Linked DNA regions of Homo sapiens: regions 2 and 3 are each linked to region 1. The links come from fine-mapping of genetic effects on gene expression. A gene starts in region 1. Each other region holds a variant in brackets. All regions are shown on one strand. Distances are from middle to middle. Region 1 holds the start of NPFFR1 (neuropeptide FF receptor 1). Region 2 overlaps LRRC20 (leucine rich repeat containing 20). Region 3 overlaps LRRC20 (leucine rich repeat containing 20).

Evidence for each region. PIP is the estimated chance that this variant, and not a neighbour inherited with it, causes the effect.
Region 2: its variant is fine-mapped to the expression of NPFFR1 in anterior cingulate cortex (GTEx, PIP above 0.99).
Region 3: its variant is fine-mapped to the expression of NPFFR1 in cerebellar hemisphere (GTEx, PIP above 0.99).

The regions. Positions count from the first base shown.
Region 1 is chr10:70,278,070-70,288,506 of GRCh38, forward strand. It overlaps NPFFR1 (neuropeptide FF receptor 1), which reads right to left and starts at 5,935. Exons shown (of 4, transcript NM_022146.5): 1 at 5,601-5,935. The coding sequence starts at 5,607. RefSeq lists an enhancer at 5,142-5,643.
Region 2 is chr10:70,345,841-70,356,277 of GRCh38, forward strand. All of the region lies in intron 2 of LRRC20 (leucine rich repeat containing 20), which reads right to left. Among named protein-coding and RNA genes, the nearest start is that of LRRC20, 32 kb to the right of the region's middle. RefSeq lists enhancers at 9,506-9,605, 9,826-10,035. The variant G/A (reference allele first, on the strand shown) is at 4,618.
Region 3 is chr10:70,359,708-70,370,144 of GRCh38, forward strand. The region is part of intron 2 of LRRC20 (leucine rich repeat containing 20); the gene reads right to left. Among named protein-coding and RNA genes, the nearest start is that of LRRC20, 18 kb to the right of the region's middle. RefSeq lists an enhancer at 9,193-9,694. The variant G/A (reference allele first, on the strand shown) is at 4,986.

The DNA.
Region 1 (10,437 bases):
GAGGAGACAGATGCTGGGCCAGCCCTGAGTGATAGAAAGTTCTTCCTGAGGTTGAGTTGAGTTGTCTTACTGCAACCTTCCCTCACCAGTCCCAATTCTGCTCCCAGGAGCCAGAACAAGAGTGAGCCCCTGTCCCCAGAATCATCCCCCTCTCCCCACGTCCCAGGGTATCCAGCAAGAGGGACTCCAGACCTATCTCATAGTCAGTGTGTTTTGGGACCTCCCCTACCCACCCCCCACCCTGCCCCGTAACTTTCCTGAAGAATAAAAGCCAGATCTCCCCCATCTTGAATGTAAGCCATTAATTTTTTGAGACCTAAATTCAGGACTTTACATTTCACTTACATGTACCTTTCATTTTCTTGGTTTTAATCCAGCATTTTGGTATGTTGAGATAACCTTAAATCTTGACTTTATTGCCTTGTGGGTGTTACAGCTCCTAGCCACAGATTTCATAAGCATGCCTTTTATTTTCCCCCTAAATTATTAATTAATGTCATATCAGGGTTGGAGTTCTAGGGACCCCTAGGCTGCTATCAAACCTTTCATAAAGCCCCCATTGTTGGTCCTCCAGTATCCCTCCTACGTCTCTCAATCAATTCACGAGTTTTTTCTGAGAGATCTTGGCAGTGTCCTGATGAACTTTCGTATTCATCATTTTTCCTCTCAGAAACCCATTCTGGAAGAGGAAATCTGTAGGTTTAGCTTGATTTGTTCTTTTGTTTGTTTTGGAAATATTATTTAGTAAAACGTGCACACTGTGAATAGCTATGTAAAATTAACAGCTGGATAGAGTTACAAAAACATTTACCAGCCAGTTGTGTCTTATGAACAGTTGCTCCAAATGGTATTGACATGATTTTTATATTTTTTTAGATTTAAAATAAGTTTTAAGTTTTTTATTGCAAATTGACAATTTATAATTATATAAATTTTTGGGATAAAAAGCGATGGTATAATTTATGAATACAAGGTGGAGTAATTAAATCAAGCCAGTTAACATATCCATCAAATACTTAACATTTTTTGTGGTGAAAACATCTGAAATTTAGTTTTTGTTTTTGCTTTTTTTAAGTAAGATTCAATCTTTTTTTGTATGTGTGACCGAGTCTCGCTCTGTCACCCATGCTGGAGTGCAGAGATCTTGGCTCACTGCAACCTCCGCCTCCCAGGTTCAAACGATTCTTATGTTTCAGCCTCCCAAGTAGCTGGGATTACAGATGTGTACCACCACACCCGGCTAATTTTTGTATTTTCAGTAGGAATGGGGGTTCACCATGTTGGCTAGGCTGGTCCCAAACTCCTGACCTCAGGTGATCCGCCTGCCTCAGCCTCCCAAAGTGCTGGAATTAGAGGCGTGAGCCACTGCACCCAAACTCAATCTTTATTTATTTATTTATTTATTTTTAAGATGGAGTCTTGCTCTGTCGCCCAGGCCAGAGTGCAGTGGCACAATCTCAGCTCACTGCAACCTCCACCCCCTGGGCTTAAGCAATTCTCTTGCCTCAGCTTCCCGAGTAGCTGGGATTACAAGTGTGTGCCACCACACTCAGCTAATTTTTGTATTTTTTAATAGAGATGGGGTTTCACCATGTTGGCCAGGCTGGTCTCGAACTCATGACCTCAAATGATCTTCCCGCTTTGGCCTCCCAAAGTGCTCTGATTACAGGCATGAGCCACTGCACATGGCCCTCTTGGCAATTTTGAAATGTACAATACTCTATTATTAACTCTATGCACCATGCTGTGCAATAGAATTCAAAAAAAGAAAACCATTTCTTCTGTCTAACTGAAATTTTGTACTCTTTGACCACCATCACTCCATTCTCCCCCACCACAGAGCCACTCTACTCTCTGGTTCTATGAGTTCTATAGTTTTAGATTCAATATATAAGTGAGAACATGTGGTATTTGTCTTTCTGTGCTTGACTTATTTTACGTAGTATAATGTTCTCCAATATTGTCCATGATGTTTTAAATGACACAATTCTGTCTTTTTAAAGGCTGAATAGTATTCCATTGTGTTTACATACCCCATGTTCCTCATCCATTCATCGGTTTATATACACTTAGTTGATTCCATAGCCTGGCTATTGTGGATAGCGCTGCAATAAACACGGTGGTGCAAACATCTCTTCAAGTAACTCATTTCAGATTTTGGGGTAAGTACCCAGAAATGAACTTGCTGGATCATATGGTAATTCCGTTTTTAGCTTTTTGAGGAACCTCCATACTATTCTCCATAATGACTGTGCAAATTTATTACATTCCCACCAACACCACACAAGGGTTCTCTTTTCTCCACATCTCCAACAACACTTACTTATCTTTCGTCTTTTTGGTAAAAGCCATCCTGACAGGTATGAGATGATGTCTCATTGCGGTTTTAACTTGCATTTTCCTAATCATCAGTGATATTGGGCATTTTTTCATATACCTGTTAGCCATTTGTATGTCTTCTTTCGAGAAATGTCTATTCAGATTTCTTACCATGTTTTAATTGGGTTTTTTGTTTTCTTGCTGTTGAGTTGTTTGAGCTCCTGGATTTGTTCTTAGTGAGTACTAATATAGGCTCCTAATGAACAATACATTATTTTCTTTCTTTTTGAAAACGCTTTTTTGTTTTGTTGTGCTTATTATAAAAGAATTCTAGGCTGGGCGTAGTGGCTCACACCTGTAATCCCAGCACTTTGAAGGGCCGAGGCGGGCAGATCACGAGGTCAGGAGTTCAAGACCAGCCTGGCCAACATGGTGAAACCCTGTCTCTACTAAAAACACAAAAATTAGCCAGGCATGATGGCACATGCCTGTAATCCCAGCTACTCAGGAGGTTGAGGCAACAAAATTGCTTGAACCTGGGAGACAGAGGTGGCAGTGAGCCGAGAACACGCCACTGCACTCCAGCCTGGGCAACAGGGCGAGACTCCGTCTCAAACAACAACAACAACAACAACAAAGAATTCTGAGCACCGCAAAAGAGAGAGTAAACCTGACAGAACCCTCACATCCAGAGATAACCCCTATGTTTGTGATGCTCTCTGCCTGCCACATCCCATTGGCCCAAAGATTTCAGCTGGGGTGAATGGTTCCTCAAATTTTTAGCACCCCACCAGGTCTGCACCTGGGAGTCTCTCTGCTCTGCTTCCTCTGAAGTCACAAAAAGGGACAACCCAAAACTGCAGGAGTGGGGCAATACCAGACCAGTGGGGAGGTGAAGCAGCCAACGCCACCTCTTAGGTGGGGTAAACCTCGGGTTCACCCTGCACTTTTCTCAGAGTGTCCCCAGCAGGATAGAACCCCCCAGTTGCCCACAGCTAAAACCAGCTCATTAAGGCACCCATTTCTTGCCTTTTCTCCCTTCTTCATCTCACTCTCCTCATTCCCTCACTTCCACTGCCCGGCATCATCTCCCAAATAGACTCCCTATATCCAAGCTCTTGTCTTAGGGTCTGCTTTCAGAAGCAGGAGAATCAAACAAAGATGTTAGTGACTACCTCTTTGCGTATACACTTGTATATGTATATTTCCAATAATAAACCTATGTAATTTTGCATAAAGGGGATCACACTACACATGCATTCAAAAACCTGTTTTTTTTTCTAATTACTCACAGTGGGTAGTGAACATATTTCCATGTCAATAAAGAAAATCCTAAGCACAGTTTTTAATGTCTGCATAGTATGCCATTGCAGAAGTGTCTCATTTTTTATTTAATTTACATAATTTATGGCTATCTGGATGGTTTCCAATTTTGCACTGTGATGAACATGCTCAGGCACACATCTTTGCAAGTGTGCAGCTCAGAATTTGAAAAAATTCTGAGCTGAGGGAGTGCGTTGTTGTCTCCTAAGTGTACACTGTGTTTGGTCATTTCTTCTGGAATTTTAATAGAGGTCAAAACTAATCTTAGCAGTGTAGAGGCTTTTTAGATAAAAAATTTATATTTCCCTTTTTTGAAAATCAGGACATTTGCCCATCTTCAGTTTTCTGGCACTTCCTTCATTCTCTGTAGTTTCCTCAAAAGCAATGATTATATCTGTAAATACCTCTGGGTCGCTGGGATGTCATATGTCTGGGCTTCAATGAGTGAGCTCATTGTAGGTAACTTGATGTCTTCTTCCTATCGCTTGACTATCTTGGGTCTCTATTTCCTCCTTATCCTCTTTATTCCACAATTTGAAGTAAAATTGCCTGTATCTTGCTCTGCCTGCCCTCGAGCCTAAGCCAGAGCAGATTCCTTCTTGTTATTCTTAGACTTTGAAAGCTTTTTGCTCTTGTCTTTGCCAATTTCCCCCGACTTCTGTTCACTGGAGCTTCAGGGCTTTGCTAACGCCATTCTTACAGATCTGCCAATCTTCCAGATTCCTCTTGGGTTATTGATTCCTTCTTGCCTCTTTTGTGTGTGTGCTTTTCATACCCTGGCTCATTGGAAAACTACAAGTGCAGCCTCACAAGATTTTCTATAAAACTTGATTTTATTTTTTAACAGCAGTGTTTGCAATTACTAATTGGAATTTTGGGGTTTTATTACCTCTTGCCACAGCTGCCTCATACTGGCGTGTTGTACAACATATCTTATTTTATCCTCACAGACACTCTCTGAAGCCAGCTGAATGTTAAGTTCCCCCATTCGATAGATGGGTGACCAGTGGCACAGAAAGGTTTAGGCACTATCTCAAAGACACCCAGCAAGACAGTGGACGAGCCCTTGGTTTTCCAGTTTCTTAGCCTAAATATGGTTCCCCTTGTCCACAATGGCTGAGAGAGGGTTCTGGTAAAGTGGGAGCAAGCAGCCTTATGCCTTGGTCCGCTATCCCTTAAAATCCTGAAGGTAAGGTCCATAGTTCACTCTCCTTTCCTTAGGGAGAGAAATTCTCTCTACATGGAGGATATCACCTCTAGAATCCCATCTCCCCAACAACCCCACCCCTTCAAGCAGACAAAGTCGGTGACAATTCTTCTGAAGCTAATAGCCAAGCTGTCCTCACCTGGTCTCAAATGATTCTCTGCTCAGACAGCAGGGATTGTGTGCGTGCACACACACAACAGGGACTCTCTCTTTTTGTGTGTGTGTGTGTGTGTGTCTTGTACATGCACACACATATGTACAACACAAATACAGAGGCACCCCAGGTCTTTCTCTCTCTCTCTCACTCTCTCTCTCTCTCTCACACACACACACAAGCACAACATGAATACAGAGGCACCCCCAAGTGTTTCTCTGCCTGTCTCTGTCTCCCTCTCTCAGTGTCTGTCTCTATGTCTCTGTCTCTGTCTCTCTCTCTCTCTCTCTTTCACACACACAGGCACAACATGAATACAGAGCACCCCCAGGTCTTTCTCTCCATCTGTCTCTTTCTGTCTGTCTGTTTTTCTGTCTCACATACACACGCACACACACACACACCATGAACACATGGGCACCCCAGGTCTCTCTCCCTCACTCAGTGTCTCTGTCTCTGTCACACACAGAGTGTCACAACGTCTGGCTCTGGACAGCCATGGGTGATCAGCTGCCCGGCCCTCTCCTCTCCCTTCGCCCCATGCCCCGGAGTCGGTACCCTGCCCCACGGCTGGCCCCCAGCCCCAGGACCACTCACCCTCCATGATGCCCCCAGTTGCGGGCTCCGGCGGTCTCCGATGGCGGGAGGCAGCGGGCCCCTTCGGGCCAGCGGGCAGAGGGACGGTCTCCGGGCACTTGGTTGCGGGCTGCGCCCCTGCCTCCGCGCTCCGCAGGTCCGGTCGGTCCGGGCAGAGGTGAGCAGGGGGCGTGCGCTCCCAGGCCCCGGGCCCTGGCCGGTTTCCCTCCCCTCGGGCTGACTGGCTCCCGCGCAGCGCTGCTGCCCGCAGGGCTCAGCCGCCCGCCGCCCCTCGCCTCCCGACCAGGGGAAGGAGGGGGCTCGTGAGGCGCAGTCGTCATGGCACCCGCGCACCTGTGCCCGCCGAGCGAGGGCGCCCCGGGCCCGCCTCCCGCATGGCGCTCTCTCCACAGAGCCCGAGCGCCCCTCCGAAGTAGGGGACACACCCCTCCTCCCACTGCAGCCCTGGCAGCGGCGTCCCGTAATTCCCCACCTCTCTCCCGTGCCTCATATGCCAGCCTCTGTCCCCACTCCTCATCCTTGCCCACCCTAGCCTGGGGTCCAGCACTCTGGGCCTTCCTGAGAAGGGGATGAGAGGTAGCTGTGAAAACAGGAGGGCTTCGGGAGGGAGGCAGGGGGGAGCCCCACCAGCTCCCGGCTCTCCCAGGAGAATGGGGACAAGTTCTGCTAGGTGACCACGGCTTTGAAATTAACCAGTTCAGGCATTCACCGGGTGGTACCCTTGGAAAAGTTTCTTATAATAATACCTGTGCCTGAGTGTGTTTCTGCATTTGTAAAATGATTTTGAGGGGAGTAAATGTGATACCAAAGTTTCAGCCCAGCCCATAGTAGATGCTCAACAAATGGTTCCTTGAGCTGAATTGGAGAATACTCATCTCCAGCCCCTGTCAGGCACCCAGCAGGCACCACCATAAATTTTCGCCACATGAATAAAGATCCCAGGTTCTATCTGCACTCCTGTGTTTTTCTTGCAGCACTGTTTACAATAGCTAAGATTTGGAAGCAACCTAAGTGTCCATCAACAGATGAACGGATAAAGAAAATATGGTACATATATGTAAATGGAGTACTATTCAGCCATAAAAAAGAATGAGATCCAGTCATTTGCAACAACATGGATGGAACTGGAAATCATTATATTAAATGAAATAAGCCAGGCACAGGAAGCAAACGTCACATGTTCTTACTTATTTGTGAGATCTAAAAATCAAAACAGTTGAACTCATGGACATAGTAGAAGCATGTGGTTACCAGAAGCAGGGAAGGGTAGTGGGAGGATAGGGATGGTTAATGGGTACAAAAAAATAGCTAGAAAGAATGAATAAGACCTATTGTTTGACAGCACAATAGGGTGACTATAGTCCATAATAACTTAATTGTATATTTTTAAATAGCTTAAAAAGTATAATTGGATTGTTTGTAACTCAAAGGATTAGTGCCTGAAGGGATGGATACCCCATTCTCCATGATGTGCTTATTTCACATTACATGCCTGTATCAAAACACCTCATGTACCCCATAAATATATACACCTACTATGTACCCAACTATTTTTTTAAAAAAAGATCCCATGTTCTAGGCAGATGAAAGAAAGTGAATGGTCTATTCCTTCCTCTTTTAGGAGTCAGGAGTTTGCTCACTGGACACTGGGGAAACAGTTGGCATCAAGATTCTTCCTAGTCTCACTTCTTTCCCTAGTTCCTCCTCTGTCCAGAGCAGTGGGCAGAGTCTCACAGCTAGAAGGTCCTTAGGGGTCACTGAGTCTAACCCTGACCCAGAGCGGGCATCCTGACCCTAATCCCCAGCAAGAAGTATCCCCAGCAATGGGTACCTCTGCCATCATGTCCCTCTCTCTTCCCCTAGGGCAGCCCTTCAGAGGTCAAGTGGGAGGGAAGTTGCTCCTTCAACGCTGCTGTTCTACTGGAGAAACACAAGAATTTCACTGGGCTTTTTTCTTTCTGTGACTTGCCTCAGTCTCTTCATCTGTAAAATGGGCATAATAATGGCACCTATCTCCTATAGTTGTGAAGATTAAAGCAGTTACTATATACAAAGCATGTGAAACAGTGCTTTGCATATAGACAGTACGCAAGAAATATTATTCATCTTATCACTATCTTGAGTCCACCTCCCTGTAGAAGTGCTCACATTTCTTGAAGTCCCTCTGATAAAACCCAGAAGTATGTCAGGTCATATTAAGCCCCCTTGAGCAATGCAGAGTTTGAGGCACTGTGCTGTAAAGTCTGTATAGCCCAGCACTGCCATTTAGAGTTGGTGCGCTTTGGGAAATTTATATGTCTTTGTGCCTGAGTTTCCTCTCATCTACAAAATAGGGATAATAGTACCTACCATGTAGGGTTATGAGAATTAAATGAGTTAATATATGTAAAGCCCTGACAACATGTAGGTACTCAATAAATATGAGCTACAATTACAGGGGCAATAGAGTTTTTTTTTTTTTTTTTTTTTTTTGATAAGGTCTTACTCTGTCACCCAGGCTGGAGTGTAGTGGCACAATCTCAGCTCACTGCAACCTCTGCCTCCCAGGTTCAAGTGATTCTCCTGCCTCAGCCTCCCTAGGAGCTGGGATTACAGGCATCCACCACCGCAACCAGCGAATTTTTTCGTATTTTTAGTAGAGACGGGGTTTCACCATGTTGGCCAGGCTGGTCTTGAACTCCTGACCTCATGTGATCCACCTGCCATGGCCTCCCAAAGTGCTGGGATTACAGGCTTGAGCCACCATGCCCAGCCGGGGCACTAGACTTTGAATAATGCAGTCTCACTTTTTCGCTTTCTTCCCTTTCCTTCCTTCTTTCCTCAGCAGCCACATCATTCTAGCGCCTTGTGGTCAATTGCTCCACCATCTTTTTTATTTGAATAGTTCCAGATCATAGAGCCTTTTCTTCCTTTTCCCTCCTCTTCTACAGACATTTTTCTTCTACCATTAAAACCTTCCTATAGTGTCAAGTCCACGTGGTACCAGACAAAACAAATTTCGTGGATCTAGCCTTGGAGAGCAGGCAGGGCAGTGTGTCTGAGTGTGAATTCTATCTCTACTATTTGTTAGCTGTGTGACCCAGGGTAAGTCACTTAAGCCCTCTGATATGGTTTGGCTACGTCCCCATCCAAATCTTACCTTGAATTGTAGCTCCCATAATTGCCATGTGTTGTGGGAAGGACCGGGTGGAAGGTAACTGAATCATCGGGGTGGGTTTTTCCTGTGCTGTTCTTGTGATAGTGAATAAGTCTCACAAGATCTGATGGTTTTATAAAGGGCAGTTCCCCTGCACATGCTCTGTTGCCTGCCGCCATGTAATAGGTGACTTTGCTCCTCCTTCACCCTCTGCCATGATTGTGAGGCCTCCCCAGCCATGTGGAACTGTGAGTCCATTAAGCCTCTTTTTCTTTATAAATTACACAGTCTCCAGTATTTCTTCATAGCAATGTGAAAATGGATTAACACACCCTCTAACCTCATTTTCCTCATTTGTAAAATGGGATTTATACTACTTTTTCTAACGGCTGCTGTGTGGATTAAAACAGCATTAAATACAGTGCCCTTCCTCATCCCCAAAGTCATGGGTGGAGGCCGAACAGACAGATTGGGTAAAAGTTGCTCCATGCAGATAAAGAAAAGTGCCCCCTCTCTTTCTCCTCCTGTTGTGGACTGAACTATGTCTCCCCAAAATTGATATGTCAAATTCCTAACCCCACAATGTGACGGTATTTGGAGATAGGAAGTAAGTAATTATGGTTAAATCAGGTCATAAAAGTGAGGCCCTAACGACATAAGGTGGGTGTCTGTATAAGAAGAGAAAGAGACTGGGTGTGGTGGCTGACACCTGTAATCTCAGCACTTTGGGAGGCTAAAGCGGGTGGATCACTTGAGCCCAGGAGTTCAAGACTAGCCTGGGCAACGTGGCAAAACCCTGTCTCTATAAAACATATGAAAAAAATATATGTATATAGCCAGGCGTGGTGTTGTGTGCCTGTAGTTCCAGCTATTCAGGAGGCTGAGGTGGAAGGATCACTTGAGCTCAGGGGGCTCAGAGGCTGCAGTGAGCTGACATCACACCACTATACTCCAGCCTGGGTGACAGAGCAAGACCCTGTCTCAAGGGAAAAAAAAGAAAGAAGAAGAGAAGGAGACACCAGGAATCTACATGCATAGAGGAAAGGCCATATGAGGCCACAGCGAGCAGGTGGTCCTCTGCAAGCCAAGGACAGAGGCCTCAGGAGAAACCAAGCCTTTCAGCACCTTGATCTTCGACTCTAACCTCCAGAACTGTGAGAAAATGAATTTTTGTTGTTTAAGCCAGGAGTGTCCAAATTTTTGTTGTTGAAGCCCCAACCCCTGAGTCACAGCCTGTTAGGACCTGGGCCGCACAGGAGGAGGTGAGTGAGCATTACCGCCTGAGCTCCACCTCCTGTCAGATCAGCAGCAGCATTAGATTCTCCTGGGAGCGCAAATCCTGTTGTGAACTGCACATGCACAGGATCTAGGGTGCGCACTCCTTATGAGAGTCTAATGCCTGATCATCTGATGTGGAACAGTTTCATCCCCAAACCATCAGCCCCCACCCCCGAGTCCGTGGAAAAATCGTGTTCCACAAAACCAGTCCCTGGTGCCAAAAACGTTGGGTTTAAGTCTGTGGTATTTTGTTATGGCAGCCCTAGCAAACCAAGATACCTCCCTACCCCAAAGCAGCTCCCAGGAAACCTAAGGCAACATTATTCTCCATTGCAGATCATGCTTTTCTCCAAAGTTCACCTGACTGCAGGGCTGGGGCGCTTCTCTGCCCTGAACCTTGGATGCAGAGTCTTTCAGTCAAAC
Region 2 (10,437 bases), 68 kb after region 1:
TTTCATGGTTAATTAACTGTTTTTCAGCTAGGCATGGTGGCTCACACCTGTAATCCCCAAGGTTGGAGGATCACTTGAGGCCAGTTCACAACCAACCTGGGCAACACAGCAAGACCCGTCTCTACAAAAAATAAAATACGGCTGGATATGGTGGCTCACACTGTAATCCCATCATTTTGAGGGGCCGAGGCAGGGAGATCACTTGAGTTTGAGACCAGCCTGGCCAACATGATGAAACCCTATCTCTACTAAAAATACAAAATTTAGCCAGGTGTGGTGACGGGCGCTTGTAATCCCAGCTACTCAGGAGGCTGAGGCAGGAGAACTGCCTGAACCCGGGAGGCCAAGATTGTATCACTGCACTCCAGCCTAGGCGACAGAATGACAGAGAGACTCTGTCTCAAAAAAATAAATAAATAAAATAAATTTGCTTGACGTGGTGGTGCCTGTGTGTAGTTCCAGGTACTCGGGAGGATGAGGTGGGAGGATCACTTGGGTCCAGTTCAAGGCTGCAGTAAGCTATGATTGCATCACTGCACTCAAGCTGGGCAACAGAGCAAGACCCTATCTCTAATAAAATAAAGTAAATATTAATTAACCATTTGTTTCCCCTATGGAAAATCCTATCCATGTCTCACTATTTTTCTACTTGGAGCTCTGGCATTTTTTTCTCCCAAATGTTTGTAGAGCTCTTTAAATAGTATTATCAACCCAGGTGTGTTGATTGTTTCTCTTGTTGAATCATTCATGTTACAGAGCGTAGGGTTTTTTTCTGAAGCAGGACATAAAAACCATATGCACATTGTAATTCCAACTAGGTATAAAAGGATACATGCCTGGGAAAGACAATAGAAAGAAAAATAACCAGAATGCTAACAGTGGTTATTTCAAAGGATTTGAGCAATTTGTTACTAAATTATAGTCTTCATGGTTGTTTACTTTATACAAAGTAAGTAAAATACCATTCTATATTTATATAAAACCATTTGCCAAGTATCTGTATACAGTGATACTTTACTTTTAAAATAAAAAATTAATGTATCATAAAATTAGCTATTTTTCTGAGACAGGATCTCGCTCTGCCACCCAGGCTGGAGGGCAGTGGCGTGATCTCGGCTCACTGCTACCTTCACCTCCCAAGCTCAAGTGATTCTCCCACCTCAGCCTCCCAAGTAGCTGGGACTACAGGTGCATGCCACCATGCCCTGCTAATTTTTGTATTTTTAGTAGAGACAGTGTTTCACCATGCTGCCCAGGCTGGTCTTGAACTCCTGGCCTCAAGTGATCCACCTGCCTCATGTTCCCTAAGTGCTAAAGTTAACTTTTATTGGAAAAAATAACCTGGCAAATTCGCAGATAAATTGAGGGCAGCCAGCTCTTCGTCAGTGAGGGAAATAGGGAAAAGCAGATCCAAGAAACACAGGAACTCTGCATTGGGCTGGGGCAGAGCTGTGAATAGGAGCTTTCAGGGACCACCACTCCCCACAGTAGGGAGAGAAAGTGCTTACAACGGAGGAAGAAGCCATAAAGCCATGCAAGTTATTTCCAAGGGTACTCAAAGCAGCCTGTCTTTCCGGAGTAGATCAGCCCAGAAATGTCCAGCCCACAGTCCCATTCCGACCACCTGGGCCATCTACACACCATCCCAACCTCACACCACCCACCCTTCCAGTCTCTGATTTAGGCAACATACAAGTGCCGGGCACGGTGGCTCACGTGTGTAATTCCCAGCACTTTGGGAGGCCGAGGCGGGCAAATCACTTGAGGTCAGGAGTTCAAGACCAGCCTAGCCAACATGGTGAAACCCCATCTTTACTAAAAATACAAAAATCTGCCGGGTGTGGTGGCGCGTCCTATAATCCCAGCTACTTGGGGGGCTGAGGTGGGAGAATTGCTTGAGCCTGGGAGGAGGAGGTTACAGTGAGCCGAGATCACACCACTATACTCCAGCCTGGGCAACAGAGCGAGACTCCGTCTCAAAAAAAAAAAAAAACCCAAAAAACACACACACACAAAAAACAAGCAACATACAAGCCCTCTGCGGCTTCATCTGGCCAACTGACACACCGCAAGGCCACATTAGAGGATGCCGAGGGCCTGGAATGTCACCTCCGACACCTGCTTCTTTCTTTCACTCTCCACAAATAGCTATCGAGGCCCTCCTGTGTGCCAGGTACTGATCTGCACAGTATCCTGTGACTTACCTATGACTTTTTTGTGTCCCCAGGGATTCCATCTGTTTTCTCCATTATGTGACCCCTCCAGTACCCACCAGAGGCCAGGATGCATGAGAGGGGTGCACCACCAAGCTCCTACCCAGAACAGCCTGGCTGCCACCAACGTCAAAGGCAATCCAGGAGTTCCACAGAAGGGCCCTGCTGGGATGTGATGCAAACACCCCTCATCCCAGCCCCATCACCAGCCACTAACACAGCACATGGACTCTCACCCCTGCTGGGAGGAGAGGTCCATGATCTCCAGAACAGTTCTCCATGGTCCCGGGACAAGAAAATGGAGATCCAGGAGCAAATATCATCCTTACACAGTCATGTTCCCATCTGTACACAAGGAGCAATATGCTGTATGCCACACACGGGGGATGGGAATAATAACAACCATAAACAACACCACTTACTATTTCACATGTGCTATGTAAGTACGAACTATCCCCTCTGCACACAGGAGACTGTAATAAAGTGACTTGCCCCAGGTCATATAGCTAGAAGTGAGGACGGGGAGATTTGGATCCAGGTTAGGTGGATCAGGAAGCCAGGGGTCCCAACCACTCCACTCTACTGCCCCCTTGAGTCAAAAACATGCCTAGGTGCCTGGCTCTAGGCCAGGCCAGAGAAAGGGAGTATATGCTGAACTCCCCCATGGGAAACCGAGGTCTTGTCTACAAACTCCTGTAGGCCCTTCAAGTTCAGAGCCCTCAATGCCTCTGGGGAAAGGGGCCAACAGCCTTCTGCACGAGCCAGTCACCTTCTGTTCTCTGGAAATTCCTCTGCAGGTCTAATTCAGAGGTTGGGCACCATCTATACCCATTCTACCAGTTTGCAGAAGGAAAAAGCCCCATGAGCCCCAAGTTCAATGTTGGGCCCTGAGTTTATAGGAACAGACGGCACTGCTGCCAGAGAACACAGCCAAGATGTGACTGGGGGCCAGGTCCCACTAGGGAAGGGGGGCCCCACCCAGGGAAGAGAAGATCCAGGCTGCAGACAGGAGAGAGTGGTCCTCAAAGAGCTGTGGGATGTCATCGAGAAGGTCTCATTCTCTATGGGTCCTCAGCACAGACAGTATATAGTTCACCAAGGCATAAAGAAAAGGCTCCTGGGTGAGGACGTGAGGACCGCATCAAGCAGCATGGTCAGGCAGAGTCTCCACAGAGAGAATTCCTAAACCAGCAGAGGCCAAGCTGGTGATCTCAAAGGTCCCATTCAAGTTAATAAGCGCAGGGCTGGGCATGGTGGCTCATGCCTGTAATCCCAGCATTTTGGGAGGCTGAGGCAGGTGGATCACCTGAGGTCAGGAGTTCGAGACCAGCCTGGCCAACATGTTAAAACCCTGTCTCTAATAAAAATACAAAAAGTAGTCGGTCGTGGTGGTGCGTGCCTGTAATCCCAGCTACTCAGGAGGCTGAGGCAGGAGAATTGCTTGAACCGAGGAGGCAGAGGTTGCAGTGAGCAGAGATCGTGCCACTGCACTCCAGCCTGGGCAACAGAGCAAGACTCTGTCTCAATAAACAAATAAATAAATAAAATAAACACAGCTAACAGCACTGAGTATTTGCTATGTGCCAGACACAGTTCTAGGCACTTTTTCTATAGTAACTCATTTAATTCCTTTGACAACCTGAGTTACCCTCACAGCAGGAGAATGAGGCACATGTTGATAGGTAAATTGTCCATGGTCATTGTGGTACAGTGATGGGATCTGAATGCAAAGATTCAAAACCAAAGATTCAAGTAGGGTGACGAGTAGGGCAGTTTAAGCAGGACTTTCCTAATTTTAGCATTGAGAGTCTTGCATCCTGGGGAATCCCTCCTCAGTCACTGGCAGATTGGGATGTTTAGGGTCACCCTAGATTCAGGTGGATGGATGAGAGTTCTACAGACAAAAAGGAGAGAGGGAAGGGAACCCAGGAGTGAGCCACAGCATGAGCAAAGGACTGTCACCCCTCTGGGACTCCCTCCTTGAGCTCTGCCTTCTTCTACACTTTCTCAGAGCCTCGCCCATGCTGCATGAATGCTCAGAGAAGAAGGCTCCTGGCATTGGAATCATTTAGTGCTAAATGGCGGTCACAGACCCCGACAGGGGTCAGGAATGGCATGGTAGGTAAGGGGCAATGCCAGGCTCCTCCAGCACCATGTAGACAGCAGCTAGACTTTCCCTAGCAGCCCCAGCCACTGACACCTGGGCTGCAGCAGGGAACAGAAAGATCCTTGGGGGAGGCGGTAGCAGTACAATAAACACAAGCTGTGATGATCCTCCTAATTACAATTATTATTGCAAGAAGACCAAACTGCATGTCCCCAAACTTCTAATTAGAACAGTTTTTTGCATTAATAAAGAAGCCTTTTATTCAAATTGCTTGGGTCCTTTATTAAAGCTTATCTC[G/A]TTAATTCTAATGAATGCTTGATGAAAAGTAATCAGTGGGCAGAACCAGGGCAGAAGGAGCAAAATCCAAGAAGACAGAACACTCAGCTGGAATTCAGGAGCGCCTGATTGAGCTTGCATGGTGACTTAGAAATATAGAACTTTGACCCCTGCCAGCCCCTGCTGAGAAGTGGGCCTGGTGACAGGGCCCAAGAGTGGGAAATGGAGCAGGACTTCCCTGCCAACCAAGTCACAGGGCCCAGAGGCGAGGGTGTCAGGGACTCAGGCCAGTAGGCACATGGGCTTGTGACCTAGCCAAGAAGTAAGGCTCCCAAGGCTACTGGAGGAACTCTGTGGCCAGTGTGACCCACTCCCACTGAGAAGCTTTCTTCATGGAATCTCAGGGTTAGGAGACCGGGGGTCCTTTGGCCGACGTTTGCCAAACTTCTGAGTTAGAATCAACTGAAGGCTGGGCACAGTGGCTCATGCCTGTAATCCTAGCACTTTGGGAGACTGAGGCAGGATTGCTTGAACCAAGGAGTTTGAGACCAGCCTGGGCAACACAGTGAGACCCTGTCTCTAGAAAAATAAAAAATTAGCCAGTCATGGTGGTGCACACCTGTAGTCCCAGCTACTCAGGAGGCTGAGGTGGGAGGATTGCTTGAGCCTAGGAAGTCAGGGCTGCAGTGAGCCGAGATCGTGCCATGGCACTCCAGCCTAGGTGACAGAGTGAGACCCTGTCTCAGAAAGAAAAAAAAAAAAGAGACAATCATCTGAAGAGGCTGGTCCTTTCATCCTCCCCCAGATATTCTACCTTTCAGTGAATCTGGGATGGTGCCATGAAATTTGTTTTTAACAATATCCCCAGGTGATTCTTATCAATAGGCAAACTTGGGAAACACTGAGTAACACAGCCTCCAATCTGAGGCCTGAAATCTCTCCATGTCTCCATCTGAGGTCATAGAGTTCTCCTTGAACACTGGTGATGGGAGGGCTCCCTCCTCCTTCCATAGAATGAGTTTAATTGTTAGAGAGTTCTTTAACGAACTGTATTAATAACTGCCACCCTTCACCACTCACCAGTCCTGCTGCCCTCTCTTCTGCATGGCAATCCTTCACATAAATGATGACAAAGGACATTATAAACATTTTCTTTTTAATTATTGTAAAATACACATAACAAAAATTTAGCGAGCGATATGACCAAGTTTTACGGGAAAACTCCCGTGATTTTCAATCAAACATTGCATAAGTAGCCAAGGAGCAATGAATAGCAGCAACTAGAATCATGGAAGCCATGCATCTATAGGCATGAGGAATGGGAGGGATGTCTAACACGTCCAGTGTGAGTTGTGGAGGGAAATGTAATTGATCGATCCTAATCACTGACTCTTGGTCAACTTTACAGTTTCTGCAATACAAGCTTGTGATTTATGCTTACTCTCTAGTGGAAATCAGGATTGTTATGAAGACTTAAGGCTCAATATTTTTTAACACAATACTCATCTAGGATGTAACAGTGAAGCCGAGTAAACTACAACTGTTGAGCAAGTTCCAGCTTTTCTCAAGTTAGTTATATTATAGGGTGTACTTAGTAAGCATATTTAGGTGAAAGAAGTTGAATTATGTTAAATGTTGCCCTTTGCCACATTACACTGAACACTGGATGCATGTGGAAAGACATGCTTTGTTTTTTGTAAAACTCAAGGTAGGAGCTGTGTCTAGAAACATTTTGGCATGTTTGTTAATTCTAGTTTCACTTAATAACTTGTAAGGCATGTACGTTTAAGCTTTTTTTTTTTTTAAGTTAATGGGAAAAATCTGAAACGCAATACCAATACTTTAGAATTTTGGCCTTGGTGTTTGTATGAAATTCTGAGGCCTTGATTTAAATCTTTCATTGTAGTGTGACTTCCTTTTAGGTATATTGTGCTAAGTGAAACTTGTCAAATAAATCCTCCTTTTAAAAACTGCTAAAAAAAATGTAGCATTTTATCAGTGGCAAGGGATTAGCAGGCAGAGCACAGAGGATTCTCAGGCGGTGAAAGTGACATGTGGCAGACACATGTCATTATACATTAATCTGAGCCTAAGGCTGTACAACACCAGGAGTGAACCCTAATGTGAACCATGGACTTTGGGTAACAATGATGCACCAACGTAGGTTCACCAATTGTAGTAAATATGCCCCTCTGGTGGGGGATGTTGATCATGGAGAAGGCAATGCCTGTTTGTGGGCAGTGGGGAGTATATTGGAAAATCTCTATTCTTAACTCTTAATTTTGCTTGTGAACCTTGTGAACCTAACACTCCCCTTTAAAAATTAAATATTTTTTAAAATGTGCCATCTTAACCATTTTTAAATGTACAGTTCAGTAGCTTTAAGTATATTTACATTGTTGTGCAATCAACTAATCTCCAGGACTTTTGCATCTTGCGAAACGGAAACTCTTTACTTGTTAACCCCCTATTTTCCCATCCCCCAGCTGCTGGCAACCACAGAACATTATAAACTTTTTTCCAGGCAAAAACATCCCCAGAAACTTCAATCCTCATGGTTCTGGCTGCTCCCGTGAGAGGAGCAGGACCAACCTAGCTCAGACTCTGGCCTGGCCAGAACTTTCTCCTGCACCGGTGTTGAGTCTCTAACACATAACTGCAGCCACCACTGATTGACACCAGGTGTGTTCCAGAAGCTGTGCTGGGGCTTCAGACCTTTTATTCCCTCCATTCCTCACAACCACCCTATAAATAGGTCACTACTATGCTTACCCCTGGTTAACAGTTAAGGAAACTGAGTCATGGAGAAGTCAAACAAATTGTTCTAAGTCATATGACTTATTCAAGGTCAACCAGTTAATGAAATAATAAAAAACATTTACAAAGTGCCTGCTGCTTGCAATTAGTGATCTCAGCTTGTCATGCATTAACTCAGTTAACCCCCACAACATCACAACATCCCCATGAGACAGGCACTATTTTGTATTTTTTATTTTTTTGAGACAGAGTCTCACTCTGTCACCCAGGCTGGAGTGCAGTGGTGTAATCTCGGCTCACTGCAACCTCCGCCTCCTGGGTTCAAGTGAGTCTCCTGCCTCAGCCTCCTGAGTAGCTGGGACTACAGGCATGCACCACCACGCCCAACTAATTTTTGTATTTTTAGTAGAGAAGGGGTTTCACCATGTTGGCCAGGCTGGTCTCGAACTCCTGACCTCAGATGATCCATGAGATGGGCACTATTATTACTATTCCTGTTGTACAGAGGAGGAATCAAGACACAGAGCCAGGAGTCTTGGTTAGTAAGCTGCTGAGCTTAAGGGTTTGCTCCTAACCACCATGCTACACTGCCTCCCTAGAATATGTAACCCGCATTCAGGACAGCCTGCCATGCTGAAACAGATTGGGAGGTGGTGGGTTTCCAATGAGCAGATAGATCTTCCATGATTTACAATGGGTTCCCTGGGAACACTAGTATATTGCAGTTCCCATGGAACTATATAAAAGGGGACTTAGAGTTGAAAGAGCTGGTGAAAGAGTCATCAGGGTATCAACAGCCTGGATTTGTCACTTACTGTCTGTGGGACCTTGGGTCCTTATGCCCTTAGTTTTCAAATCTTGGTAAATTGCAACTGATCATCTCCAAGGCCCCTTGCAGCTGCCACTGTGGATTCTAGGACTTGGCCACAACCAGGAGCCACCTTGGGAGCTCTATAGACTCTTGATGCCTAAGTCTCTCTCCCAGAGAGTCTGATTTAATTAGTGGGGGCTGGGGCTTGGGAATGGAAGGGAGGGTAAAAGCTCCCTGGGTGACTCTAACGTGCAGCCAGGTGAACTCTGCACCATACCATCACCTCTCAAACTAAAGTGTGACACCTGGGGACACTGCCAACGTGCAGATTCTGATGCCACATGTCTAGGTGGGGCGTAAGAGTCTGCATTTCCACCCAGCAGGTCCAAGGACCACACTAAGTAGCAAGGGCTACTCCAGTGCAGTGGTTCTCCAAGGGCATCAGCATCACCCACAGCATTAGCATCACCCCAGAACTTGTCAGAAAGGCACATTCTCAGGCACCACCCCAGTCCCACAGAATCAGAAACTCTGGGGGTAAGGCCCAGGCATCTGTGTTTTAGCTGAAGCATCACTGGCCTAGAGGGGCCAGGCCTCCTCCTGATGTAGCTGCTTCCTGTATTGATGATGATAATGGGGTGGTAATGACAGTAACTGAGTGCTGGCTGCTCCTGCCTGCCTAAGGGCATGAGGTTTACACGCTCATGGAAATTTTTTGTGCCCTGGGTTCCTCCTGCTTCCCCTCTGAGCAGACTATTTCAGGACAGAGCAGCAGAGACAGAGTCTCTTCACTCTCTTCTCTCGCTTTGTTCATGCTTCTGGTACTCAGAGGCACACGTGACCCTCGGTGTGGAGGCCGCCCTGGGCTGTAACTCAGGAGGCCTAATTCTTATCCCAGCCCCTCCACTATCAGCCAGGGGGAGCTCAGAGACACTACTTCTTCATGGGCCTTGTCCCCTCATCTGTAAAATGAGGGTTTGGACTAGATGATTTGGGGTCTCAACCAGACCAGACATCCTCTGACTCCATGATTCTACTAAACAAAGGCTCTTCAGACAGCCCTCTGTCAAACAGGAGCCCCCCATGACTTGAGCTGCCAGTCTCTGAAATGTCACTCAATTTCCAAAGTAGGGACACACAGGATGCAGACAGCGAGCAAAACAACTGCTCATCAAGGGATCGTGCCGTGCATCACTGGGCACAATTAGGCATCACTTTAACAAAGCTGTTTGTTGTAGTGCTTACAGAGCTGGCTGGCTCTAAAAGGCTTAAGACAAAAAGCAGCCGGACTTGCTCCCTCTTGACAAATCCCCTCCCCCAGGGACAACCACTTTCAGGTCTTTGGGGGTGTTTTACTCCCGATCTCTAGAGCAATGTTTCTGAGCCTGTTTCCTGTCTCATGCCCCTTATAGAGAAAAGGGCATGGGAGGAAGAGCTCACCGAGGACCACATACGTCCAGAAAGTCCCACCGCAATAGCACACACAGCTACTGGGCCCGGGAGGGTTGTCGGGAAGAGAAGGGCAGAAAGGCACTTCGGGAAGGCGCGTCTTCTGAGACGTGGGGAAACCACTCAACTTGAAAGTGCCAGTGGGTTTAGGGGGATTTTTTTCTTTCACTTCCTATTTCATGGACTTGTATATTGTGCAAGAGTTTTACAAGCACTTAATGACTTCTTACAAATATCTCCAGTTTAAAGAAAGGAACATCCCCAACATGCAGTGACCCTTGGGGTATGTTTTTCCTCAAACGCCCAAAAACCTGGATCAGTGGAGATGGGTGTTGATGGGGACATAGGGAACAGAGCTAAAGTCCTGCCAGGGCAAAGCTCACGGGAGCTGCTGGGGAGAGCAGCCGCACGCTCAGAGGGCTGTGTGGACACCCCTCTGACAAACGCACACACGAATCCTGCATCTCAGAGGTGCCTTCTCACGTCCTGCTGCAGAAGCCCCTGCCTCTCTAGGAAATAATGTGCTACAGAGAGTTGGCCTCAGAGAAGAAAGCTGAGCATGAGGCCCTCCAGCCAGTGGCTATCATACTCAGTCAGAATAACTTCTAACCACACAAGAGACCTAGAAAGCAATATCTTCTTCTCAGAATCCAAATTGAATCCTTTCTTGGGCCAACTCTTTCTTGCTGTGGGACCTCAGGCAAGTTACTTAACTCCAATCTCAGTTTCTTCTTCAGTAAAGTGAGGACAAGAGCTCTTTCAAAAACCTGTATGCAATCTGGGCATGGTGGCTCACGCCCGTAACCCAAGCACTTTGGGAGGCC
Region 3 (10,437 bases), 82 kb after region 1:
ACTCCCTTTATTTTTCCACCTCTACATTTTTGCTGGTACTGTTCCCATTAAGTAGAATGTTCTCCCTTAGCTTCAAAAGTTCTCGTCAACACTGTATTTCAAGGACTTGTTTAAATGCCTCCTCTCCACTAAGCCTCTGTTCATGTCCTCAACTAATGTAATTGCTCCTGCCCTTGAACCCCCGTTGTTCCACTGCATTTTTTTTCTTTTTCTTTTTTTTTTTTTTTGAGGTGGAGTCTCCCTCTGTTGCCCAGGCTGGAGTGCAGTGGCGTGATCTCGGCTCACTGCAACCTCTGCCTCCCAGGTTCAAACAATTCCCTGCCTCAGCCTCCCGAGTAGCTGGGATTACAGGTGCCCACCACCACACCCGGCTAATTTTTGTATTTTTAGTAGAGACGGGGTTTCACCATCTTGGCCAGGCTGGTCTTGAACTCCTGACCTCATGATCCACCCGCCTCAGCCTCCCAAAGTGCTGGGATTACAGGCGTAAGCCACTGCGCCCATCCGCATTTCTTTTATTTTTGTTTTTACTAGAGATGGGGTATTGCTATCTTGCCCATGCTGGTCTCAAATACCTGGCCTCAAGTGATCCCAGTCTGCCTCCCAAAGCATTGGGATTACAGGTGTGAGTCACCACACCTGGTTCCTCATTGCTTTCCTCCTCCTCCTCCTCCTCCCCATCTCCCTCCTCCTCCTCCCCCTCCTCCTCTTCTTCCTCCTTCTCTTGCTCTTCATTTCTTTTCTTTTGAGACAGGGTCTCACTCTATAGCCAAGGCTGGAGTGCAGTGGCATGATCATAGCTTACTGCAACCTAGACCTCTCAGGCTCAAGTGATCCTCCTGCTTCAGTTTCCTGAGTAGCTGGGACTACAGGCTCACGCCACCCTGCCCGGTTAATTTTTCTTTTAGTTTTTTTGTAGAGACAGTGGTCTCACTATATGGCCTAGGCTGGTCTTGAACTCCGGGGTTCAAGTGATCCTCCCGCCCTGGCCTCTCAAAGTGCGAGGATTACAGGTGTGAGCCACCACACTGGGCCCACTGCATTTCTGCCAGCTCTGTCAGGGTCCCTATCCCGTTGTGTCTCACATGAAAGTTGTCAACGTGTTTGTCTCACTCTTCCTAGCAGGGCAGAGAGCTCCCAGAGGGCAGAAATTAGGTCCCACTGAAATGGGTGGCATGTTAAAGAGGGTATGGGAACTGTCATAATGGCACACGCCTATAGTCGCAGCTACTCTCAGGAAGCTGAGGTGGGAGGACCACTTGAGCCTAGACGGTTGAGGCTGCAGTGAGCTATGATCATGCCACTGCACCCGACTGGAAGACAGAGTGAGACCCCATCTCTAAAAAAAAAAAAAAAAGAGAGAGAGAGAGAAAGAGAGAATGAAGGCACAGGAGGCCAACAGATTCAAGTTCAAATCTCAGCACAAGATTTTAAGATTTGCTGGCTGTGAGCGTCCACACAAACCACTGCAGCTCATGAGGCCTCAGTTTCTCCTTTGATAAGTGACATGAAATATCACCTCTCCAGAGCTGGGAAAATCAGATGCACTCACTCATCAGACAAATATTTCCTGAGTATCCACTATATGCCAGCACTGTCCGAGGATATGATGGTGAGCAAGAGAGAGTGAGTCTCTGCCCTCAGGGAGCTTACGCCCTAGTGTGGCGAGAAGGCAGTATATGAGGGAATGGCAAGCAGTGATAACTGCCCTCAAGAAAACAAAACGGTATAATGGGAGAGCAGGTAACTGAGGCAGGGGCAGGGGCAACCCTCACTAGGGTGATCAGGAAGGGCTTCTAGGAGGAAGTGACATTTAGCTGAGACAAGAATAAAAAGGATAAGATCTGAGAGGTACAGTGTTAAGAGAAGCAAACAAATAAAAAAGAATAAAAAAAGAGCAGGGCATACAAAGATTTGGGGAAAGGACGATCAAGGTGGAAATCACAGCAAGTGCACAACTTGAAGGCACACCTGCCGGGGCCCAGTCATTGGCTCCCTCCCCCACCCTCACCCTCCCATCCCATCCTCTGCAGAACGGTACACAGACACAGGACACAGTAAATACACATCTGCCGGAGTGAATGTGACAAAACCAGGAATCTCGAGGATGAACTGGAGCACGACAAAAATAAGCACCTTAGCCAAAAACAGTCAACTGAGATTGAGGCAGATGCCAGTTAAAAAGATCTTAAATTCAGGCCGGGCATGGTGGCTCACACCTGTAATCCCAACACTTTGGGAGGCCAAGGCAGGTGGATCACATGAGACCAGGAGTTCGAGACCAGCCTGGCCAACATGGTGAAACCCCGTCTCTACTAAAAATACAAAAATTTAGCCAATAGTGATACACGCCTGTAATCCCAGCTACTCAGGAGACTGAAGCACGAGAATCACTTGAACCCAGGAGGCGGAGGTTGCAGTGAGCTGAGATCGTGCCACTGCACTCTAGCCTGGGTGACAGAGCCAAGACTCTGTCTCAGAAAAAAAGAAGCATTTAGGCTGGGCCTTAAAGTATAAGAAGGGCCCAGACACGTGAAGAACAGGGAAGAGCATCCCAGGCAAAGGGAACAGTATGTGCAAAGGCCTGTGGCTAGAAAGGCTTAATAGTTCAAAGGACTGATAGTCTGGGCTGTAAAGATGAGGGAAGCCCCAAGCTACTCAAAGTGCAGTCAGAGAATTTTGCAAGTGTCAGGTCATCCACAGCTTTGTGGTATGATCTTGGGTTTTACTCATTGTGTAGAAGAAGCCGATGAGGGTTTAATACAGACAGAACTGCTAAAGGTCAGCGCTGGAGTCCCACATTTGACAGATGAGAACTGGGCCCTGCAATGGGGAGTTAGAGTGAGGACCAGAACCCCAGCTTCCTCATTTCTGGACCACAGCCTCCTGTAAAACAGAACTCTCATCTTTTCACCTCACCCAGCTTCACTTGGCGTGAGCCCTGTCCTGACAGAGCTGACTCCACCCAGTGCCAGGCTTGGCCCCTTACAGACATGACCTCCCAGAGCAGCGTGCCTCAAGGGGGGCAGTTTTGCCCCCAGGGGACATTTGGAAATGTCTGGAGACAAATTTGGCTGTTACAACTGGGGGTGGAGTGAGGGCAGGGGGTGCTACTAGTGTTATCAACTGAATGTATGTGTCACCCCAAAATTCATAGGTTAAAATCTAATCTCTAATGTGATGGCATTTGAGGTGGGGCCTTTGGGAGGTGATTAGGTCGTGAGGGTGGAGCCCCCATGGACAGGATTAGTGTCCTTATGAAAGAGACCCCCAGGCCAGTGCAGTGGTTCAAACCTGTAACACCTATAATCTCAAGATTTCGGGAGGCTGAGATGGGAGGATCACTTGAGCCCAGGAGTTCGAGACTAGTCTGGGCAAGATGGTGAGACTTATCTCTATTAAAAAAAAAAAAAATTTTAAATTAGCCAGGCATGGTGATGTGTGCCTGTAGTCCCAGCTACTCGAGAGGCTGAGTCAGGAGGATCATTTTAGCCTAAGAGTTTGAGCCACTGCACTCCAGCCTGGGCAAAGGGAGGGAAGGGTGGAGGGGAGGGAAGGGGAGGGGAGGGGAGAAGAAACCCCAGAACATTCTCTCAAGGAAGGAAGGAAGGAAAAAGAGAGAGGAAGGGAGGAAGGAAGAAACCCCAGAAAAGTCTCTCCCTGGCCCCCCACCCACGGAGGACATGGTGAGAAACATCTGTTAATGAACCAGGAAGCAGACCTGCACCAAACACTGAGCCTGCCAGTGCCTTGATCTTGGACTTCCCAGCCTCCAGAATTGTGAGAAATAAATCTCTGCTGTTCATATTTTGCTATGGAAGCCTGAATGAACTAAGGCATCTTGCCTCAAGTGGGTAGAGGCTAGGATGTTGCTAAACATCTTACCAAGCACAGGACAGCTCCCCAGAACAAAGAATTATCCAGCTCAAAAACCAAAGGTGTCAAGACAGAGAAGTGCCCACCCAGGGATACAAAGCCTTCCTTTCAAATAGGTGCAGAGCCCTCAAGGGAAGAAAGCCCTCCCCAGGGGGCACAGGAGAAGAGGGAGAAGGGTCTTTCTTAGCCTCCCAGGAGCCCCAATCCAGACAGAGCAAGTCTAGAGGTGGCATGCTAGGCAGAAGGCTCCAAGTCAACCCCCAACACAGCACACCACAGAGGAGGCAGAGTTGGGAAAGGTCTGTCTCCTTACAGAGGAGCTCAGTCCCCCTGGGAGAGCAGCACAGACCCTGCAGTGGGGACCTCCAGCCCCCTCTCCTCCCTGGTAAACTCCCACCTGCTTCCTGCGAGAGGCAGAGAGCCAAGGATGGCAGATCTGAGGCCTCAGCCCTTGTGGCAAACAAAGCCAGGCAGCCCCAGCCATCTGGGAGCTGCTGTGTGAGAACGCAGTCCCTCCCCCATGCTCTCAGAGCTGGACTGTGCCAGGCTGACCCTCAGGACTCGCCAGGCCAGGAAACATCACAGCAAAACACACTCCCCTCACCCCTACCAGATGCCGGCCTCAGCTCTGGGCCAGGAACTACAGGCCAACAAGCCCTGGTGAGGGCCAAGATCACCACCCCACCAGGCCAGAAAAGCAGCTCCCACTCCAGTCCCTGGCAGCCCCCTTTCAGTGTAAGAGTGTGCTAGAGCGATGTCTGCCTCCCCTCCAGACTGGGCACTCCCGGGCACATGCATTGCCCTCCAGGCAGGGCACACACAGCAGCTGCTCAAAGTGTGTTTTTTGAAAGAGGAGCCAGTGGCAATTTCTGAACGAAGAAAATGTTGTGATTCAGTGGGTATCTATTAAGTGTTTCCTGAGTACTCTTGTTCAGAAAAGGGGTTGCAACATCAGGTCCCTGCAGGGGTTGGACAGGAACATAAACACAAGAAGGGAGTGGAAGCCTTGGTCAGAACACCCAGCAACAGCTCACCCAGCAACAGCCTGGCCAGGTCCCTGGGCTCGGCTTCCGGTCCTTGGCTTGGCCTGTGACAGGGCGCCATCTGCT[G/A]GCTAGTACAGAAAGAAGCAAGCGCTCAGCCAAAGCGCAGGTGGGCCCGGGAGGGACGAAAGGTGGACACACCCCTCGCGCTAGCCTTGGTCTCCCTGTTTGATTCCACAGCTCCCAGCCTAGCTGCTCAGGTCCCTCCCCAGGAGCACATCACATCCATGTCCGTATTTATTCATCATCTCCCACATGCACATCCAGAACCCTGCCAGGCAATGCCCCTGCCCCACCCCGCAGCAGCCATCAGGACAGGAAGCTCCAAATTGCAAACAGTAAGCCAGTGATTCTCAAAATTCAAGGCAAAGAAGAATCAGACACAGTTCATGTTAAAATTCAGATCACCAGGTCCTCTCTGAGATTCAACTTTTTTTTTTTTTTTTTTTTTTTTGAGATGAAGTCTTGCTCTGCCGCCCAGGCTGGAGTGCAGTGGCACCATCTCAGCTCACTGCAACCTCCGCCTCCCAGGTTCAAGAGATTCTCCTGCCTCCGCCTCCCGAGTAGCTGGGATTACAGGCGTGTGCCACCAAGCCCAGCTAATTTTTGTATTTTTAGCAGAGACGGGGTTTCACCATGTTGGTCAGGCTGGTCTCGGACTCCTGACCTCGTGATCCACCCACCTCGGCCTCCCAAAGTTCTGGGATTACAGGCGCGAGCCACCGCGCCCGGCGAGATTCAACTTTTAAAGCTCTAGAATAGGGTCCGTGGATCTGCATGCTTAACCAATAACCAAATGATCCTGATAGGAGAAAATCTTCTTGACCTTGGGTTAGGCAAAGACTTCTCACATACAATACCAAAAGTATCATGTATAAAAGATAAAACGATAAATTAAATTTCATCAAAATTAAAAATGTGAGCCAGGCAGGTGGCATGCACTTGTAGTTCCAGCTACTCTGGAAGCTGAAATAGGAGGATCTCTTGAGCCCAGGAGTTCCAGGCTACAGTGTGCAATGATTGTGCCTGTGAACAGCACTGCACTCCAGCCTGGGCAACATACCAAGACCCCACCTCGAAAAAACAAAACTAAAAAGAAAGAAAACCCAATGTTTTTTAATGGGCAAAAGATTCGAATAGAGATTTAATCAAAAACGAATGGATAGGCCGGGTGTGGTGGCTCACGCCTGTAATCCCAGCATTTTGGGAGGCCGAGGCGGGCGGATCACGAGGTCAGGAGATCGAGACCATCCTGGCTAACACGGTGAAACCCCTCTCTACTAAAAATACAAAAAATTAGCTGGGCGAGGTGGCAGGCGCGTGTAGTCCCAGCTACTCAGGAGGCTGAGGCAGGAGAATGGCGTGAACACCGGGAGGTAGAGCCTGCAGTGAGCCGAGATTGTGCCACTGCACTCCAGCCTGGGTGACAGAGCAAGACTCCAGCTCAAAAAAAAAAAAAAAAACAACAACAAAAAACGAATGGATAGCCAACAAGCACATGAAAAGTTGTACAACGTCGGCCAGGAACGTGGCTCATGCCTGTAGTCCCAGCACTTTGGGAGGCTGAGGCAGGCAGATCACCTGAGGTCAGGAGTTCAAGACCAGCCTGGCCAACATAGTGAAACCCCGTCTCTACTAAAAATATAAAAATTAACCAGGCATGGTGGCAGGCGCCTGTAATCCCAGCTGCTCGGGAGGCTGAGGCAGGAGAATCACTTGAACCTGGGAGGCGGAGGTTTCAGTGAGCTGAGATTGTGCCACTGTACTCCAGCCTGGGTGACAAGAAGTGAAACTCTGTCTCAAAAAAAAAATAAAATAAAATAAAAATAAAAGATGTTCAATATCACTCATCATCAGAGAACTGTAAATTAAAACTACAATGATACACCTCTTAATACTATAAAAAAAGAAAAAATAAATCAAACTACAATGAGATACATTACACCCTAGAGAATGTATACAAGTAAAAAACATACCGAGTGTTGAAAAGGATGTGAAGCAATTGGAGCTCTCAATCTCTTTGGAAAAGAGTGTGGTAGTTTTTTATAGTCAAACATATACTTAATATATAGAGTTGGCTCTCTATACCTGTGGGTTTTGTACCCACAAATTCAACCAAACACAGAAAATATTTGAAAATAAATAAATAATACAAATTTTAAAAAGCAATACAACTATTTACATAGCATTTACATTGTATTATGTACTATAAGTAATCTAGAAATGATTTAAAGTATACAAAAGGATGTGTGTAGGTTAGATGCAAATACTATAGCACTTTATACAAAGGACTTGAGTATCCTTGAATATTGGTATCTGTGGGGCTCCCGGAACCAATCCCCTCAGATATGGAGGGACAACTGTACAACCCAGCAATCCTACTCCTATGTATTTATCTGAGAGAAATGAAAACTTTACTGACCAGATGCCGTGGTTTGTGCCCATAACCCCAGCACTTTGGGAGGCTGAGGCAGGAGGAATGCTTGAGCCCAGGAGTTTGAGACCAGCCTCGCCAACACAGGGAGACCCCATCTCTACAAAAAATACAAAAATTAGCCAGGTACAGTGGTGCACACATGTAGTCCTAGCTAGTCAGGAGGCTGAGGTGGGAGGACGCTTGAGCCCAGGGGGCGGAGGCTGCAGTGAGCCAAGATCATACCACTGCACTGCACTCTAGCCTGGGCAAAAGAGTGAGACCCGGTCTCAAAAAAAAAAAAAAAGAAAGAAAAGAAAAAGAAAAAGAAAAAGAAAACTTTGCTTCACAGCAAAACCTGTATGCAAATGTTTACAGGCTTTGTTCGTGATGTTAAAAAATGAAACAGTCCAAATGTCCTTCAGCAGATGAAAGGATAAACGGATCATGGAACACCCACACCATGTAAAGCTGTTCAGCAGTGAAAGGAACAAACTACTGATTCCCACCAAACATGGATGAATCGCAAACACGTGATGCTAAAGTGAAAGAAGCCAGGCTCAAGAGCTTATTTACTCTATCATTCCATTTCCATGATATCCTAGAAAAGGCAAAACCACAGCGATGGAAAAGAGATCAGTGACTCCCAGGTACCAGGGATGGGGAGGGTTTGGCTGCAGGGGAGCATGAGGTGATAAAAAGGTTCTGAGTCTTGTTGTGGTTGGTTATAAAAACATATGTTTGTCAGAACTCAACTATATACTAAAAAGGGTAAATTTTATATATATAAATTATAACAATAAAATACATAAGATCAAGGCATGGCAGAATCATCTGGGAGGCCTGCTAAAATCCACACTACCAGCCCCCGCCCTCACAGATTCTATTTTCACAGCTCTGGAGTATTGCCCATAAATCTGCCTATGTTATGTTATGTTATGTTATGTTATGTTATGTTATTTTTTGAGATGGAGTCTCGCTCTGTCACCCAGGCTGGAGTGCAGTAGCACAATCTTGGCTCACTGCAACCTCCACCTCCCAGGTTGAAGAGATTCTCCAGCTTCAGCCTCTCAAGTAGCTGAGACTACAGGCATGCATCACCATGCCTGGCTAATTTTTGCTTTTTTTTTTTTTTTTTTGAAACGGAGTCTCACTCTGTCGCCCAGGCTGAAGTGCAGTGGCACAATCTCAGCTTACTGCAAGATGCGCCTCCCGGGTTCAAATGATTCTCCTGCCTCAGCCTCCCAAGTAGCTGGGACTACAGGCGCCCACCACCACGCCCGGCTAATTTTTTGTATTTTTAGTACAGATGGGGTTTCACTGTGTTAGCCAGGATGGTCTTGATCTCCTGACCTCGTGATCCGCCTGCCTCGGCCTCCTAAAGTGCTGGGATTACAGGGGTGAGCCACCGCGCCCGGCCATTTTTGCATTTTTAGTAGAGACAGTTTTCACCATGTTGGCCAGGCTGGTGTTGAACTCCTGACCTCAAGTGATCTACCCACCACAAGGATTACAGGCATCAGCCACCGCGCCCAGCCTGAATCTGCATTTTTTTTCTGAAATGAACTGAGGTTTTATTTTTATTTATTTTTGGCGGCAGGGGGGACTGAGTCTTGCTCTGTCACCTAGGCTGGAGTGCAGTGGCATGATCTCAGCTCACTGTGCAACCTCCGCCTCCCAGATTCAAGCAATTCTCCTGCCTCAGCCTCCTGAGTAGCTGGGACTACAGGTGCATGCCACCACGCCTAGCTAAGTTTTTGTATTTTAGTAGAGATGGGGTTTCACCGTGTTGCCCAGGCTGGTCTCGAACTCCTGGCCTCAGGCAATCTGCCCGCCTCAGCGTCCCAAAGTTCTAGGATTACAGGTGTGAGCTACCGTGCCCGGCCTGAATCTGCATTTTTAACCAGTACTCCTACAATCCTGATGTTGGTTACCCAGGACCTACCCTTCAGAAAATCCTGCAGGAGTGAAGGAACTGACAGAGGGACATTTGCCCATGAAAGCAGTCCATGGGGGCTGTCCCCATTGTTTCTTTAACTCAAGACAGCCTAACAATGATGTAAATCTTAAATACAAAGGTAGATGTTCACCTCTGCTTTTTTTCCTCCTTTTCAAGGAACAGGGTGGGCTCACTGTGGTTCCAAGAAGACCTGGGAGGAGAGGCAGGTGTGTGGGTGGGAGAAGGCGGGAAGAGGGAGGTTCACATCATTGGCCTCGCTTAGTTCTCTCAGCCCTCCTCCTCATCCCCACCCCCATCCCTCGGGGCAGGCAGCAGGGTGGATGGGGAAAAGCAGGGCTGTGCCCTAGGCTGACCTATGAACTCTGCTCCCACTCCAAACAGCTGTGTCACCAGCAGGTCACCTACACTCAGCCTAGCTCCAGCAGCTATAAAACAGAGGAAAACTACTGCAAAAGCAAAGCAGGAGAGGAGGGAAGTTGAATACCCTTGTACAACAAAACACTTAAAAACATCAGATAAAATACTTGAACCTGGGAGGCAGAGATTGCCGTGAGCCGAGATGGTGTCACTGCACTCCAGCGCCTGGGTGACAGAGTAAGACGCTGTCTCAAAAAAAAAAAAAAAAAAAAAAAAAAAACCATACATACACACTGGATAAAAGATGTTTCTCACACCTTTCTTTCCTCATCTGTAAAATGGGAGTATTAACATCACCTTTGTCATAGGGTTGTCATGGGGAATTAAATGAGTTAAAACCAGCAAACTGTTTACCACGATGCCTGGCATTTAATAAGGGCAAGTCCAAAAGATCAAAAATAGAGAATCTGAATCCCAGCACTTTGGGAGACCGAAACAGGTGGATCACTTGAGGTCAGGAGTTCGAGACCAGCCTGGGCAACATGGCGAAACCCCATCTCTGCTAAATATACAAAAGTTAGCTGGGCATGGTGGCAGGTGCCCAGCTAATTTTTGGGGATAGCTGAGGCAGGAGAATCACTTGAACCTGAGAAGTGGAGGCTCTAATGAGCCAAATCTACTACTTGATAATAAAAAATAATAAAATAATAAAAATCTACTACCTGATAAGACAACAAGCAGTTTAGTCTTTGCCTGGGCACTGAATTGTTAAAAAACAAAAATCTCCACTA